2 separate regions of the Homo sapiens genome follow, and region 1 is linked to region 2. A link means that fine-mapping ties the variant in region 2 to the expression of a gene that starts in the linked region. Tissue or cell type: whole blood. Region 2 holds a variant in brackets; the other region holds the start of a gene. All regions are shown on one strand. Distances are from middle to middle.

Region 1 (8,089 bases), 53 kb after region 2:
GACCCCTGGGTCTGAAGGAGGAGAGGCTGGGGGCCTGGGCTCCTGGGTCTGAGGGCGGAGGTCCTGGGGCCTGCATTCCTGGGGCGGAGGAGGCGGGCCGGGCCTCAGGGCCCTCACCTTCCCAGCTGATGACCAGCACCTCGCTGCGCTGCGACAGCACGTAGGGCGCGGAGGGCGTGTGATAGTAGCAGCTGTAGGTGCCGGGGGCGCGGGCGCCCAGCAGCGTGAAGTCGGCCCAGGGCTGCGCGGAGTGGCGGTACTGCAGCGGGGCCGCCACGCCCTCGCGGTACAGCACGAAGCTCATGTTCCGCAGGCGGCCCGCGCAGCGCAGGCTCACGTTGGCGCCAGGACCCACCACCGGCCCGGGCAGCGCCACCAGCGACGGCCGCGGCAGCTCCTCTGCAGAGACGGGGTGAGAGTCCGGGGCCGCGTGAGCGTCTTCCGCTCGCTCGCTCGCTCTGTTTCTCCTTCTCCTCTGTCTCTCGCTTTCTCTGTGCCTCTCTCTCTCTTTCTGCCTCTCTTTCTCTCTGCCTGTCTCTCTCTCTGTCTGCCTCTCTCTCTGCCTCCCTCTCTCTCTGCCTCCCTCTCTCTGCCTCCCTCTCTCTCTGCCTCCCTCTCTCTCTGCCTCCCTCTCTCTCTGCCTCCCTCTCTCTCTGCCTCCCTCTCTCTCTGCCTCCCTCTCTCTCTGCCTGCCTCTCTCTCTGCCTGCCTCTCTCTCTGCCTCCCTCTCTCTGCCTCCCTCTCTCTCTGCCTCCCTCTCTCTCTGCCTCCCTCTCTCTCTGCCTCCCTCTCTCTCTGCCTCCCTCTCTCTCTGCCTGCCTCTCTCTCTGCCTCCCTCTCTCTCTGCCTCCCTCTCTCTCTGCCTCCCTCTCTCTCTGCCTCCCTTTCTCCTTCTGCCTCTTTCTCTCTCTCTCCCCCCGCACTGTACCTCTCTCTCTCTCTGCTCCCCTGTCTCTCTCTCTCCCCCTAGTGTCTCTGTATCTGTCTTTTCTTGTGTCTGTGAATCTGTTTGCCCGCCTCGCTCTGTCTCTCTTTCCCTATATCTCTCTGTCCCTCCCCCAACTCCCTTGTTCCACCCACTTCTCCTCCCCGACCCCAGGACCTCACCTGTCACCAGCAGCTCCAGGACATCGCTGGGCTGGGACCAGACACCCGGCCCCCAGTCTGGCCTTCGGTAGCAGCAGCGGTAACTTCCCCCTTGGGCTGGAGTCACCTCCTCCAGAAAGAATTCTGCCAGCTCGGAGGACACATCCCGGAAGAGAAGGGGAGCGATCTCTCCAGGCTTGAAAAGTCCAAATCTCCAAGCGGGTTGGGGTGCCCGGCATCTCAAGGTCACGTTGACCCCAGGGGTCACAACTGTAGCCGGCTGAGCTCCCAGCCATGGCTTAGGGTGGTATGAAGCTGGGGGGACTGAATAAACGGGGCTGCCTGGGTCCTCGGGCCTCCTGGGAGCCCCAGAAGATGAAAGGGAAGTTGGGGAAGGAGGAAAATCACCTTGGACAATTACTGCCCCTTTCTTAGCCTCAGTTTCCTGTTTGTAAAATCAGGGAGAGACTGGACTACAATCAAGCCTTGTTAAAACCAGGTGCAAATCAGAGGGGCAGGACAGAAACTTCTGAGCTTTACTCCACAGTTTGTAAACACAGTTTCAAAAGGTCAGGTCCCAGAACTCTGTAATTTTATTATTATTATTATTTTTAAGTAATGAGATGGGAGGGGGCGGTCTCCCTATGTTGAGCAGGTTGGTCTTAAACTACTGGCCTCAAGCAATCCTCCCACCTCGGCCTCCCAAAGTGCTAAGTTTACAAGCTTGTGCCACCACACCCAGACTTTTTTTTTTTTTTTTTTTTTTTTTTTTGAGGCAGGGTCTTGCTCTGTTGCTCAGGCAGGAGTGCAGTGGCATGTTCTCAACTCACTGCAGCCTCAATCTCTTGGGCTCAAACAGTCCTCCACCTCAGCCTCCTGAGTACCTGGGACCACAGGCACATGCCACTACACCAGGCTAATTTTTTTTTTTTTAATTTTTAGTAGAGACGAGCATTCGCTATATTGCCCAGGCTACTCTTGAACTCTTGGGCTCAAGCAATCCTCCCACCTCGGCCTCCCAAAGTGCTGGGATTACAGGTGTGAGCCACCACGCCCAGCCAGAACTCTAATTTTAAATAGCTTTCCAGAATATTTGCAATATAGTATTTCAAGAGTTGCCAAAACTTGCTATTTGGAAAAGAAAAATGTTGGATCCCTACCTCATACCATTTCCCAAAACAACTTCCAGATTAATTAAAGACCCTGTGTTTCTTTTTTTTTAAACTATAAAAGTATTCAAAAAACTATAGGAAAATATATTTGTCTTGGGGTAAGGAAGGCTTCTTAAAATATAAAATAAAAAGTTGTATGGAAGATTAATTAATTTGACCACTTCAAATTTCTTAAGTTGTGTATGCTAAAAGACAAAACTAGAGGACAAATGATAGTACTGGCAGATATCACTTATTCACAAATCACACAAATTAAGAGTACAGGAAGGCTGTTGGGTCCGGTGGCTCACAGCTGTAATCCCAGCACTTTGGGAGGCCAAGGTGGGTGCATCACCTGAGGTCAGGAGTTCAAGACCAGCCTGACCAACATGGTAAAATCCCATCTCTACTAAAAACAGAAAAATTAGCCAGGCGTGGTAGTGCTAGCTTGTAGTTCCAGCTGTTTGGGATGCTGAGTAGGAGAATTACTTGAACCCTAGAGTCGGAGGCTGCAGTTAGCTGAGATCATGCCACTGCACTCCAGCCTGGGCAACAGAGTGAGAACTCCATGGTGGCATGCACTTTGGGAGGCTGAGGCTGGAGGATTGTCTGAGCCCAGGAATTCAAAGCTGCAGTGAGCTATGATAGAGCCACCGTACTCCAGCCCGGGTGACACAATGAGACCCCATCTCTAAAAATGAATAAAAATAAGGGTCGGGTGAGGGGGCTCATGTTTGTAATCCCAACACTTTGGGAGGCTGAGGCAGAGGGATCACCTGAGGTCAGGAGTTCCAGACCAGCCTGACCAACATGGGGAAACCCTGTCTCTACTAAAAATACAAAAATTATCCGGGCATTGTGGTGTGTGCCTGTAGTCCCAGCTACTCAGGAGGCTGAGGCAGGAGAATCCCTTGAACCCAGGAGGTGGTTGCAGTGAGCCGAGATTGCACCACTGCACTCCGGCCTGGGCGACAGAGAGAAACTGGTCTCAAAATAAATAAATAAATAAATAAAATAAATAGGTAGAGATAGCTATAGCGACACTGAAATATCTCCAAAAGAGTTTTTTTTGTTTGTTTGTTTGTTTTTGAAGTGGAGTCTTGCACTGTCACCCAGGCTGGAGTGCAGTGGCGCGATCTCAGCTTACTGCAACCTCTGCCTCCTGGGTTCAAGCGATTCTCTTGCCTCAGCCTCCTGAGTAGCTGGGATTACAGGTGCGTCCCACCACACCCGGCTAATTTTTTTTTTTTTTTTTTTTTTTTAGTAGAGACGGGGTTTCACCACATTAGCCAGGATGATCTCGATCTGACCTTGTGATCCGCCCGCCTCTGCCTCCCAAAGTGCTGGGATTACAGACGTTGGCCATTGCGCCCAGCCCAAGATCCTATTTCTTAAGCCCTGTACTGTGCCAGGCTCAGGGTTTTGCACATGTGATTTGATGAGATCTCACAGCGGCCCATTTTACAGAGAAGGAAATGGAGTCTTAGCAAGCTGTGACTTGTTCTAGGTCATATGGTCACATATAAATGAATACGATGGTGAAACTGAGGTCCTAGCTTAGGCCTCTGCCTCAGAAGTTCCTGGTCTTCAGTACTCACCTATAATGGCCACTAAGGGGAATGAGAAAAGAAGGAAGGAATGGAGGGAGGGAGGAAAATAAGGATATCTGGGATGGGATTGGGCACCAAAATAAAATCTGAGTAATTGGAAAAGGGGTGTCAGCAACAAAAGGAGAGTGGATGGGGTGGCTACTCACCAGACGGAGTGATGTCTGTGTGACACAGAGGCCCTGTAGGAGGTTGAGGGACTAGTTTCTTTTTCCTTTTTTTTTTTTTGTCTGAGGCAGAGTCTCACTCTGTCGCCCAGGCTGGAGTGTAGTGGTGTGATCTCAGCTCACTGCAACCTCTGCCTCCCAGGTTCAAGTGATTCTCCTGCCTCAGCCTCCGTAGTAGCTGGGACTACAAGTGCCCGCCACCACACCAGGCTAATCTTTGTATTTTTAGTAGAGAGGGGTTTCGCCATGTTGGTCAGGCTGGTCTTGAACTCCTGTCCTCAGGTGATCCACCCGCCTCGGCCTCCCAAAGTGCTGGGCCTCGGCTCCCACAGGCATGAGCCGCTGCGCCCAACAGCGAGTTCTTTTCAAAACCCTTTGTGGCCAGCCCCATCTCATTGGTAACCCAGGAATCTGAGTTCCCAGCTCCTATCTCCTCTGGGAAATGAGAATCTTATCCCTCCCTCCTCCTGTCTCAGTAGGCAGAAATTTGGACATCCATTGCCCACCTACCGAAGAAGTCTGAACGCAGACCCCTCTGGCCTGGGCAACCAAGAGTTCAGGCCCTTGAACTCCACCTTTCCAGGGAACAATGATCGTAGAGTTTCTCCTCTCACGAGTTCAGGAATCTGGGTCCCCATTTCCCTCTTCTCTCAGGAGCTAAGAGCCCTGTTCCCAGCCCCCTTTTCCCAGGGAATCAGGAGTCCTGGCTTCCATCCCCCTCCCATATAAGAATCTGGGAGTCCTCCCTGTCTCCTGACCTCTTCCTGCCTCAAGAACCAGAGATACCTGTCCCCACCTCCTTCCTCTTTCGGGAATCTGTGTTCTCTTGCTTTAGGACCCAGGGGTCTGGGCCCCAGCCCTGTTCTTTATTTGAACCTAGAATCCCAAACCTGCTGCCTGGTCCCCCTGCAGGGTGTCTGGGTCTCCATTGCCTCTCTCTCTGCCCCCAACCCCAGCCAGGAACCCAGGGAGAAGAAAGGGGTGACTCACAGAGGGTCAGCAGCTGGAGGATCAGCACCAGGGCCATGGTGGGCAGATACCCGCTAGAGCTGGAGCCAGGGCTTGGTCGCACCCTCTCCCCTCCCAGGAAATGAGGCAACATCAGAAAACCAGACCCAGATCCTCATTTACGGAAGAGAGTATCGAGGTGGGGGCCTGTGGGTGACTGTGTCATAGCCCTATGGCACTGTGGAAAAATTAGCAGGGGGTTCAGTCATAACCTGTGGTGTTCATTTATTTAACTCTAGAAACAAATACTAGTCAGGAGGTGGAGGCAGGAGGATCGCTTGAGCCCAAGAGTTCAAGAGCAGCCTGGGCAACAGAGCGAGACCCTGTCTAAAAAATAAATAAATAAATTGTGCCACTGCACTCCAGCCTGGGTGATAGAGTGAGACCATGTCTTTAAATATAGATAGACAGATAGAAAGATATCTGTCTGTTTTAAAAATAAGAACCTATTATGTGCCAGACTCTTGCTGTCATTGATTGACAGATAGATAAAAATTTGCACCTATTATGTGCCAGGCCCTTGCTGTGATTGAAAGATAGATAGATGGATGGATGGATAGATAGATAGATAGATAGATAGATAGATAGATAAAAATTAGCACCTGTTAAGTGCCAGGCCCTTGCTGTGATTGATTGATGGATAGATAAAAATTAACACCAATTATGTGCCAGGCCCTTGCTGTGATTAATTGATCGATTGATAGATTGGTTGACAGAGAAAAATTAGCACCTATTATGTGCCAGGCTCTTGGTGTGATACTGTGTTAGATAGATAGATAGATAAAAATTAGCCCCTCTAGGCCGGGCGCGGTTGTTCACGCCTGTAATCCCAGCACTTTGGGAGGCCAAGGCGGGTGGATCACCTGAGGTCGGGAAGTTCGAGACCAGCCTGACCAACATGGAGAAACCCCCGTCTCTCCTAAAAAAGAAAAATTAGCCGGCTGTGGAGGCGCGCGCCTGTAATCCCAGCTATTCAGGAGGCTGAGGCAGGAGAATCGCTTGAACTCGGGAGTCGGAGGTTGCTGTGAGCCGAGATCGCGCCATTGCACTCCAGCCTGGGCGACAGAGCTAGACTCAATCTCAGAAGAAAAAAAAAAAAATTAGAACCTATTACGTGCCAGACCCTCGCTGTGCCATGTTGGCAGGCACAGAGGGAACTCAGACTCCGTTACTGCTCTCAAGCAGCAGCTACCAGTCCGACTGAAAGACCAAGACCAGGTCAGTTTCTTTTTTTTTGAGACGGAGTCTCGCTCTGTCGCCCAGGCTGGAGTGCAGTGGTGTGATCTCGGCTCACTGCAAGCTCCGCCTCCCGGGTTCACGCCATTCTCCTGCCTTAGCCTCCCCAGTAGCTGGGACTACGGGCGCCCACCACCACGCCCGGCTAATTTGTGTTGTATTTTTAAGTAGAGACAGGGTTTCACCATGTTAGCCAGGATGGTCTAGATCTCCTGACCTCGTGATCCGCCCGCCTCGGCCTCCCAAAGTGCTGGGATTACAGGCGTGAGCCACCGCGCCTGGCCCAGACCAGGTCAGTTTCTTAAGTGATCTGAGCTATAATGGCGGTAACAGAGCACTGTGAGAGCCCGCAGAAAGCTCCTAACCCATCTGGGATGAGACCTAGCGCTTCCAGGACGAGCCGATGTTGAGCTGAGACCTCGAAGGACAGGTTAGTCATTCACCTTCTCCCGGGCTCAGTTTCTTCGTCTGTAAAATGGGCTTTCATACATAAACTATAAAATGGGGACTATTTTGTTCCGCCTTAGGTGGGTCGCAGCAGGAGGACTAGTCACTCCGGAGCGACTTCTAGGCTGAGACTAAGGAGATTCCACGCAGGTCCGCAAAGTCAGGCTTGCGCTTGCTCCTGACACCACTTCCTTTACCTCCACGGCTCCATCTTTGTTCTGCGCGAGTGCGCACGCGCAGGCTCCGAAAGCGGGCCGTCGCACAGAGGGACCACAACTCCCAGAGTGCTCCGCGTCCTTGCTTTCGCCTCTACTTGTGCTCCAGGGCGCACGCGCAGCCCTGGGAGCGGGTTCTCGCGCATAGGGACCACAACTCCCAGGGTGCTCCGCGTCCTCGCCGCTGTCGCCGCCGCGGAGACAAAGATGGCTGCGAGTAAGTGCAGGTGCCGGTGGCGCACGGGGCTCGGGTAGTTCTGGGAACCTCTGGGCGGTCCTGGGACTGAGGTGCGGCAGGGCAGGGGTGGAAGCGATGGGGTCCGTGCTGGAGGGGAACGCAGAAGTCACGAGGGGGCTCCTCCAGGGCAGGGGTGGCACGAGAGGGTTAGAGGTCACCGGGGGCAGCTACTTGCAGGGGTGACGCTTCTTGCCACCCCTTCAGGAGTCGGCGCCTTCCTCAAGAATGCCTGGGACAAGGAGCCAGTGCTGGTCGTGTCCTTCGTCGTCGGGGGCCTCGGTGCGTGAGTGCTCCAGGCGCAAACTTGCATCGTCCACCCCCGTCCCCCTACATCCCTCCATCTTGTACCCCTAAAGCCCTATCGCCGCCCTCGGGTCCCCTCTAGTGTGTCTGCACCCCCACGGCATCCCCTTATCTATCCCCATACCCATTATAACCTCTCCACCATCGCCCCCCGCGTTCCTCTCCACCTACCCAATACGCTCTTAACCCCTCTAAATGAGACGTTCTCAACCCTGCTTATGCCTTAACACCTGAGCACCAAAAAAAAGTCCAGATCCTCCTCCTCCTTTTCATCTTTCCTCTCCCCCATTCTGAATTGAGTTGGCTTGGGTGGAGGTGGGACTGGGGAATCTGTGTCTTGTGAAAATCCCCGTATGATCCCAATGTGCCTTGCTGATTGAAAATCTCTGCCCTCTGCCCTGGAACTGCCCTACTCACACTTTAATTAGCACCGGAGTTCCTGCAGGGATGGGGGCGGGGGATTGTTAAAATGTAGCTTTTTTTTTTGCGATGGAGTCTCACTCTCACCCAGGCTGAAGTGCAGTGGCGCGATCCCGGCTCACTGCAACCTCGGCCTCCTGGGTTCAAGGGATTCTCCTGCCTCAGCCTCCCGAGTAGCTGGGATTACAGGCGCCCAGCTAATTTTTTGTTT
Region 2 (8,088 bases):
TTTTGAGATGGAGTCGTGTTCTGTCACCCAGGCTGGAGTGTGATCCTGGCTCACTGCAACCTCCACCTCCCTGGTTCAAACAATTCTCCTGACTCAGCCTCCTGAGTAGTTGGGATTACAGGCGTGAGCCACCACATCTGTCTGTGTAATCACTGTCTGAAATCCACTGATGGGGTGAGTAGAAAAGCTAAGAGAAGCCAGACAGATGGCCTGGCTTCCAAGCCTGGATCTCCCACCTTGGAGCTGGAACTTCCTTGGAGCTGGACATTTCGACCAATAGACTTTGAGTAAAGCAGATGACCCACTGTCATAGGGGTGGGCCTCATCCAATCAGTTGAAGACTTTAAGACTTTAAGAGAAAAGACTGAGGTCCCCCAAGGTGGAAGGAATTCTGCCTCCAGACTCAAGCTGCAATATCAAGTCTCCCCTGGATCCCCTGCCTGCCTGCCCTGCAGATTTCAGACTTGCCAGCTCCCCACAATCACGTGAACCAATCCATTAAAATCAATCTCTCTCTCCATATATGTATATACATGTATATGTTCTCTTTTTTTTTTTTGAGACAAAGTCTCACTCTTATCGTCCAGGCTGGAGTGCAATAGTGCAATCTTGGCTCACTGCAAGCTCCGCCTCCCGGGTTCAAGCAATTCTCCTGCCTTAGCCTCCTGAGTAGCTGGGATTACAGGTGCCCACCATCACGCCCGGCTAATTTTTGTATTTTTAGTAGAGACGGGGTTTCGCCATGTTGGCCACGCTGGTCTTGAACTACTGACCTCAGGCAATCTGCCTGCCTCGGCCTCCCAAAGTGCTGGGATTACAGGCGTGAGCCACCACACCCAGCTTATATCTATATGTTCTATTGGTTCTGTTTTTCTGGAAAACCCTGGCTAACACAGACATGATCTCAGCTCTTAACTTCAAACATATTTCCTTTTTCTTTTTTTAAAGGAGAGAGAGAGATGTGAAAGGACGGGATGTGAAGATTATGGGGAGAGGGTGAGGGCAATGGAGGGGAGAGGAGGGGAGAGGAGGGAGGTCACAGATGGGAGCTCAGGATGCCAATCCCAGATGTGCCAATGGGTTCCCATTGTTGCCCAGGCTAGAGTGCAGTGGTGTGATCATACTCGAATTCCTGGGCTCAAGTGGTCCTCCTCACTCGGCCTCCAGGGTAGCTGGGAGTACAGACCACCACGCCCAGCCAACTTCAAACACACTTCAATGAGCTCGTTGATGCCAGGTAATGAACAGCAGTGACACGGGCATGGAAGGCGTTTAGAGTGGGGAGGGGTGGGGCTCTCTGAAGGAGACATGATTCCCCAAGACACAGAACAAGGGATCAGCTGGGAGAATTCAGGGAGGATTCCTAATAAGAACAGGGTTAGAGCAGGGTAGAAAAGAATGACCAGTGGCCGGGCACGGTGGCTCACGCCTGTAATCCTGGCACTTTGGGAGAGTGAAGTAGGTGGATCACTTGAGGTCTGGAGTTCGAGACCAGCCTGGCCAACATGGTGAAACCCTGTCTCTACTGAAAATATAAAAAATAAGCTGGGCATGGTGGCGCACGCCTGTAGTCCCAGCTACTCAGGAGGCTGAGAGAAGAGAATTGCTTGAACCTGGGAGGCGGAGGTTGCAGTGAGCCGAGATCGCATCACTGCATCATACACTCAACTGACCAAGACTCCAACTCAAAAAAGCATCCCTCTCAGGAGATAAAATTTCTACCAATTAAAAAACAAAAACAAAACAAAACAAAAAAAACTAGTTCTTGAGCAATATTGCCATGCAAGTCTACATCATAGCGTTTTAAAGTCTTAACAACAACCCTGCAAGGTAGTACAATTATTTCCCTCCCACTGGTGAAGGGCATGCATTCCCGTGTGACTCCTGGGATTACAGCAAGGGTTGTGTCCAAAGCTCACAGCGTTGAGGAAGAGAGAGCAACCTGTTACTAAAGCTAGGCGACAGAGTCCATGCAGTTCCCCCCCGTTTTTTGTTTTTCTTGGCACTTTAGATTCAAGAAACACAAGTCGTGAGACTTTAAGGAGTAAGTAGCAGAAACGTGATTAAGGAAAAAAGTTGAGCAACTATAGAAGTGAGGCCCCAGAAAGGGGCTTCACCAAGACCCCCGCTATCTTTGTTAGTGTGCTTTGAGTCTGAGAATTTTTCCTAGGTGTGCAATGATCTGTGGTCACATTACAGAGCCAAGTCTGAGATGCTTCACACGCCTGGTCCTCTGCACCAACAGAGGGTCTCCCATCCAGACGCTTCCCCTACTTGGTTCGCTATGTTTGCATTGGCATTTCTACATATCTATATATAGAGAATTACCTATCTAATTTATCTATCTCGCTAATCTATCTACCATCTGTCTAGGTATCTATTATCTATCTACCTATCTATCTTTATCTGTCTCTGTACCTACTTACCTATCATCTATCCAATCTATCCGTCCTATCTAATTATGATTTATCTATCTACCTACTTGCCTATCACCTATCCAATCTATCTATCCTATCATATGTAATTAACTATCTGTCTGTCTAATTTTTCTATCTTGTTAATCTATCACTTATCTAGGCATCTATGTATCTATCTTTATCTGTCTATCCACCTGCTTACCTGCTGTCTGTCTAATCTATCCATCCTATCATATCTAATTATCACTTATCTATCTACCGACTTACCTATCATCTAGTTACCAAATCTATCATCTATCTAATGTATCTATCAATCATAACCAGTTATCTATCATCTATCATCTATCATCTGTATGTATCTGTCTATTCACCTACTATTATCTATTTAATCTATTCTATCTAGTTATCTATCTATCTATCCACCTACTTATCTAATTTTTCTATCTTGCAACTCTATCACCTATCTAGGTATCTATGTATCTATCTGTGTATCTGTATATCTATCTATCTATCTAGCTAGCTTTATCTAGCTACCTAGTTACCTATCATCTATCTATCTAATCTATCATCTATCTAATGTATCTATCAATCATATCTAATTATCTGTCTATCTAATCATCTATCTTATCTATTATATCTAGTTATCTATCATCTAGCTAGCTAGCTAATCTATCTGTATCTATCTACCTACTTACCTATCGTCTATTTATCTATCTAATCTATCATATCTAGTTATCTATCTACTTACTTATCTAACCTGTTGTATCTAGTTATCTATCTACCTACTTACCTATCATCTGTCTATCTATCTAATCTGTCCATCGTATCTAGCTACTTATCTACCTATCATCTATGTATCTATCTAATCTATCATATCTAGTTATCTATTTATCTGCCTACTTGCCTATTATCTATCACATCTAATTATCTATCTATCCCCCTCCCTGAAATAAGGTTCTTTCTGAGCTGATCATCAGGGAGCAGCAAAAGGAGTGGGGAGTTTGAAACAAGACATATTTGAGTTCTAGTACTGGGTCTCCTACCTCCTGACTTTGTAAATGTTCCCTTCCCTTTCTGGAATACGTTATTTTTTGGTTAAATATAAGGAGGGGGCAGAGAGCTAATAATATCTAACTTGAAGAGTTAGGTAATGATGAAAAATCCTGGCTTTAAAGCGCTCAGTCTAGAAACTGACTCATTGTGTCGGATAATGGGATTGTAGGTATAATGATGATTTTTTTTCACCCAATATTCCACCTACACCCATCTCTCTCTGTAATAGATTCTGTCAATGTTCCTCAACCCATGTTCCCCAGATCCCTTTCCCATTTTTATGCATTCTAGATCGTGGCTTCTTTCCCTTTCCAAAGTGAACATTTGTATCTCTTCTTTGGGGGACTGCCTGGGAGAACTCCAAATGCCTTGGAATTTACATGCCCGGGACAAACTGCCACTGACGGCTGTGGGGACCCCAGCTCCCTAGCCTCTGGTCTTCGACCTTCTCTGTCTCCACTGCTTTCTGCAGGATGGAGCCAAAGATACCATCTGAGGGACACAGATATCCCACACTTGTTTAATCTATTTTCCTCCCAGCCCTTCTTCCCCACTCCCTAAAATGTAATTTTCAAGCCAGGCGTGGTGGCTCACACCTGTAATCCCAGCACTTTGGGAGGTCGAGGCAGGCAGAGCACCTGAGGTCAGGAGTTCGAGACCAGCCTGACCAACATGGAGAAACCCCGTCTCTACTAAAAATAGAATATTAGCTGGGTGTGGTGGTGCATGCCTGTAATCCCAGCTATTTGGGAGGCTGAGGCAGGAGAATCTCTTGAACCTGGTAGGCGGAGGTTGCAGTGAGCCAAGATCACGCCATTGCACTCCAGCCTGGGCAACAAGAGCGAAACTCTGTCTCAAAACTAAATAAATAATAAATAAAATAAAACGTCACTTTCACACTAATGCTGTCTAAGAGCCTGCTTCTGGTGGAGCTGAATCAGAGAACCCCTCAAAAGCAACAATTTTTTTTTTTTTGAGACAGTCTCACTCTGTCTCCCAGGCTGGAGTGCAGTGGTACAATCTCGGCTTTGGAACCTCCCCCTCTGGGGTTCAAGCAATTCTCCTGCCTCAGCCTCCCAAGGAGCTGGGATTACAAGCACCCGCCACCTCACCCCGCTAATTTTTTATATTTCTAGTAGAGATGAGGTTTCACCATGTTGGTTAGGCTGGTCTCAAACTCCAGAGCTCAAGTGTTCTGCCCACTTTGGCCTCCCAAAGTGCTGGGATTACATAAGCCACCATGCCTGGCCATAAGCAACAATTCTATCAGTGCATCTCCAAGGACTTATGAAAACAGGGCAGGAACAGCTGCTCCTGGACTCTCAGTTTCCCCAGATGGAAGCAGAGAAACAGCAGCCTTGCCTTGTCCTTTCTGTTCTCCCCTTTTCCAGCCTACGGTATCTTTCACACAGCAATTCACTAGAAATGAGAAGTACATTATTGCAAAATTCTCATCTTCATATGAC[C/G]CCATAATCAGCTGAACTGGGTTCACCCTGAGATGTCCACAGATCCTGGCCAAATGTTGCATCAGTATTTGCAAATTGCCAGAATAAATCATAACTTGCTACGCTACTAAAGTCAGCGTGAGCAACAAGATACAGCCTGACACGGGGCATAAATGGAGGCACAGGCACCAGAAAGAAAGTCAAGTCTTGTGTGATAAAATTCATCTTCATTCTCTACATTGCGATTGAACATAGAGTCGTTTTCTAGTGTGTTTTAGGCATATAAATACAGGCTGGGGACATCATACCTGTGCTTACAGATATTTTACTTTTATTTTATTTATTTACTGAAACAGGGTCTCGCTCTGTCACCCAGGCTGGAGTGCTGTGGCGCAATCACAGTTCACTGAAGCCTCAACCTCCTGGGCGCAAACGATCTTTCTGCCTGAGCCTCCCAAGTAGCTGGGACTACAGGTGCACACCACCACGCCTGGCTAATTTTTGTATTTTTTGTAGAGATGGGATCTTACCAAGTTGTCCAGGCTGGTCTTGAACCCCTGGGCTCAAGTGATCCTCCTGCCTCATCTTCCCAAAGTCCTGGTATTACAGACGTGAGCCACTGCGCCCGGCAAAGATATTTTATTCTGTTTAGAATTGTGATGATACAAATTTGAACTCAAAAAGTACATTTTAAGAAATTATATAATACCCACTGGGATGGCTATAATTTAAAAAAAGAAAAGTAAGTGTTGACAAGGATGTGGAGATATTGGAACCCACATATATTACTGGAAGGAATATAACATGATACAGCCACAATGGAAAATGATTTGGCAGTTCCTCAAAAAGTTGAACATAATAGTCACCATATGTCCTAGCAAATCCACTTCTAGGTACATACTCAAGATAATTTACAGCGCGGAGACAAACAGATACTCCTACCACAGTGTTCCAGCACCATTACTCGCTTTAGCCAAGAGGTGCAGACAACACAAATGTCCATCAAAAGAAGAACGGGGCCAGGCACAGTAGCTCAAGTCTGTAATCCCAGCACTTTGGGAAGCTGAGGCGTGTGGATCACCTGAGGTCAGGAGTTCGAGACCAGCCTAGCCAACATGGTGAAACCCCCTCTCTACTAAAAATACACAAATTAGCTAGGCATGGTGACGGGCGCCTGTAGGTCCAGCTACTCAGGAGGTTAAGGCAAAAGAATCACTTAAACCTGGGAGGCGGAGGTTGCAGTGAGCTGAGATTGTGCCACTGCACTCCAGCCTGGGCGACAGAGCAAGACTCCGTCTCAAAAAAACAAAAACAAAAACAAAAAAAAGAATGGATAAGCAAAATGTGGTCTATCCATACAATACGATGCTTTTCACCATGACAAGAAATGAAACATTGATGCATGCTACAGTACAGACAAACTTTGAAAACATTATGCTAAAGAGAAAGGAGCTAGTCACAAAGGATCACATAGTGTATGAATCCACTTACACAAAATGTCCAGAATAGACAAAATCATAGACACAGAGAAGCATATGAATGGTTGGAAGGGCCTGGTGGGAAAGTGGGAAATGAGGAGTGACTGCTTAATGGGTACAAGATTTTCTTTTAGGGTGATGAGAATGTTCTGGAATTATGTAGTGGTGATGGTTATACTACCTCATGAAGATACAAAATGCCAGTGAATTGGACACTTTACAAGGGTGAATTTTTGGACTGTGAATTATATATCAATAAAAAAAGAAAGAAAATAAATGATACAAGAGCTCAAAATAGAAAAGCTTCTCTTCCTCCTCCCCCTCACACCTCACTAGATCTCCCACCTCGTTTCTGATACTTCTGTGTTCCTCTCTCCCATTAGATTTCATATCTTTCTCAGAAAACGTTCCTGACGTGAATTGTGTTCGTAGTGCTAGGGTAGCAGACATTTCCCAAGCCTACTATCATGGAATAAAAACGTTTCAAATAGTTATCTTGCAAGAACACTTTGGAGGATACCTTTTTGAAAACCGATTATACCAGCACAGACTGCTAGCAACAACCTTCAGCAACTTTGGCTCTTTGGAGTAGGTTGCAGGAAGATTATGACTTGCTGAAAGGAAGGATGATTAAGCATCTAGATGCCAATTTATATTCTGCATTTGGCCCTTAAAGTCTGGATGAGTTCCTGTTTCAGCCGAATGCTGCCAAAAGCTCTAACTTTTTAATTTTTTTTTTTTTTTTTTTTTTTTGGAGACAGAGTCTCACTCTGTTGCCCAGGCTGGAGGGCAGTGGTGTAATCTCGGCTCACTGCAACCTCTGCCTCCCAGGTTCAAGCAATTCTCCTGCCTCAGTCACTTGAGTAGCTGGGAATACAGGCGCCCACCACAATGCCCAGCAAATTTTTGTATTTTTAGTAGAGACAGGGTTTCACCATGTTGCCCAGGCTGGTTTCGAACTCCTGACCTCAGGTGATCCGCCCACCTCGGCCTCCCAAAGTGCTGGGATTACAGATGTGAGCCACCTCGCCTGGCCCAAAAGCTCTAATTTTTATGAGAAACTCTGAGGACAGAATCTTAGTCAATTGTTAATGAATAAGCAACATTAGAAAAAAAATTCAATATTCACCTATTTTTGAGAATTTTAGAGTTATAACAAACTCTTGATTATATATATTCCTGAAGTACCTACTCTGCGTAGGTCCTGGTCCTACTCCCCAAATGGGTCACTGAAAAATTCACCCCCATTATTCCCCAAATCCCACCCTAGTTTTTCATCATGTCATATGGCAAACAACGCACTCTGTGCTGTTTTACACACCAGCTTCTTCAGAACCCGGAAGCACTTTAGAGGTTATCTCCCCTCATCCTCCACCCCCCAAAACACAGCAGTTTCCCCAATAACATTGAGAAAATGGGCTTTAAAGTTCTTCTAGGCCGGGTGCGGTGGCTCATGCCTGTAATCCCAACACTTTGAGAGGCCGAGGCGGGGGAATTGCTTGAGGTCAGGAGTTTGATACCAGCCTGGCCAACATGGTGAAACCCCATCTCTACTAAAAACAAAAAACAAAAAACAAAACTGAGCTGGATATGGTGGTGGGTGCCTGTAATCCCAGCTATTCGGGAGGCCGAGGCAGGAGAATTGCTTGAACCCAGAACCCAGGAAGTGGAGGTTGCAGTGAGCTGAGATTGTGC

Evidence for each region. PIP is the estimated chance that this variant, and not a neighbour inherited with it, causes the effect.
Region 1: it holds the start of OSCAR, and the variant in region 2 is fine-mapped to the expression of OSCAR in whole blood (TOPMed, PIP above 0.99).

What each region holds. Positions count from the first base shown.
Region 1 is chr19:54,095,755-54,103,843 of GRCh38, forward strand. It overlaps OSCAR (osteoclast associated Ig-like receptor), which reads right to left and starts at 5,049. Exons shown (of 5, transcript NM_133169.6): 1 at 5,002-5,049; 2 at 3,994-4,026; 3 at 1,108-1,410; 4 at 118-399. The coding sequence starts at 5,038. It overlaps NDUFA3 (NADH:ubiquinone oxidoreductase subunit A3), which reads left to right and starts at 7,101. Exons shown (of 4, transcript NM_004542.4): 1 at 7,101-7,134; 2 at 7,360-7,434. The coding sequence starts at 7,125. RefSeq lists an enhancer at 6,890-7,866.
Region 2 is chr19:54,042,870-54,050,957 of GRCh38, forward strand. The region is part of intron 4 of VSTM1 (V-set and transmembrane domain containing 1); the gene reads right to left. Among named protein-coding and RNA genes, the nearest start is that of VSTM1, 17 kb to the right of the region's middle. The variant C/G (reference allele first, on the strand shown) is at 4,937.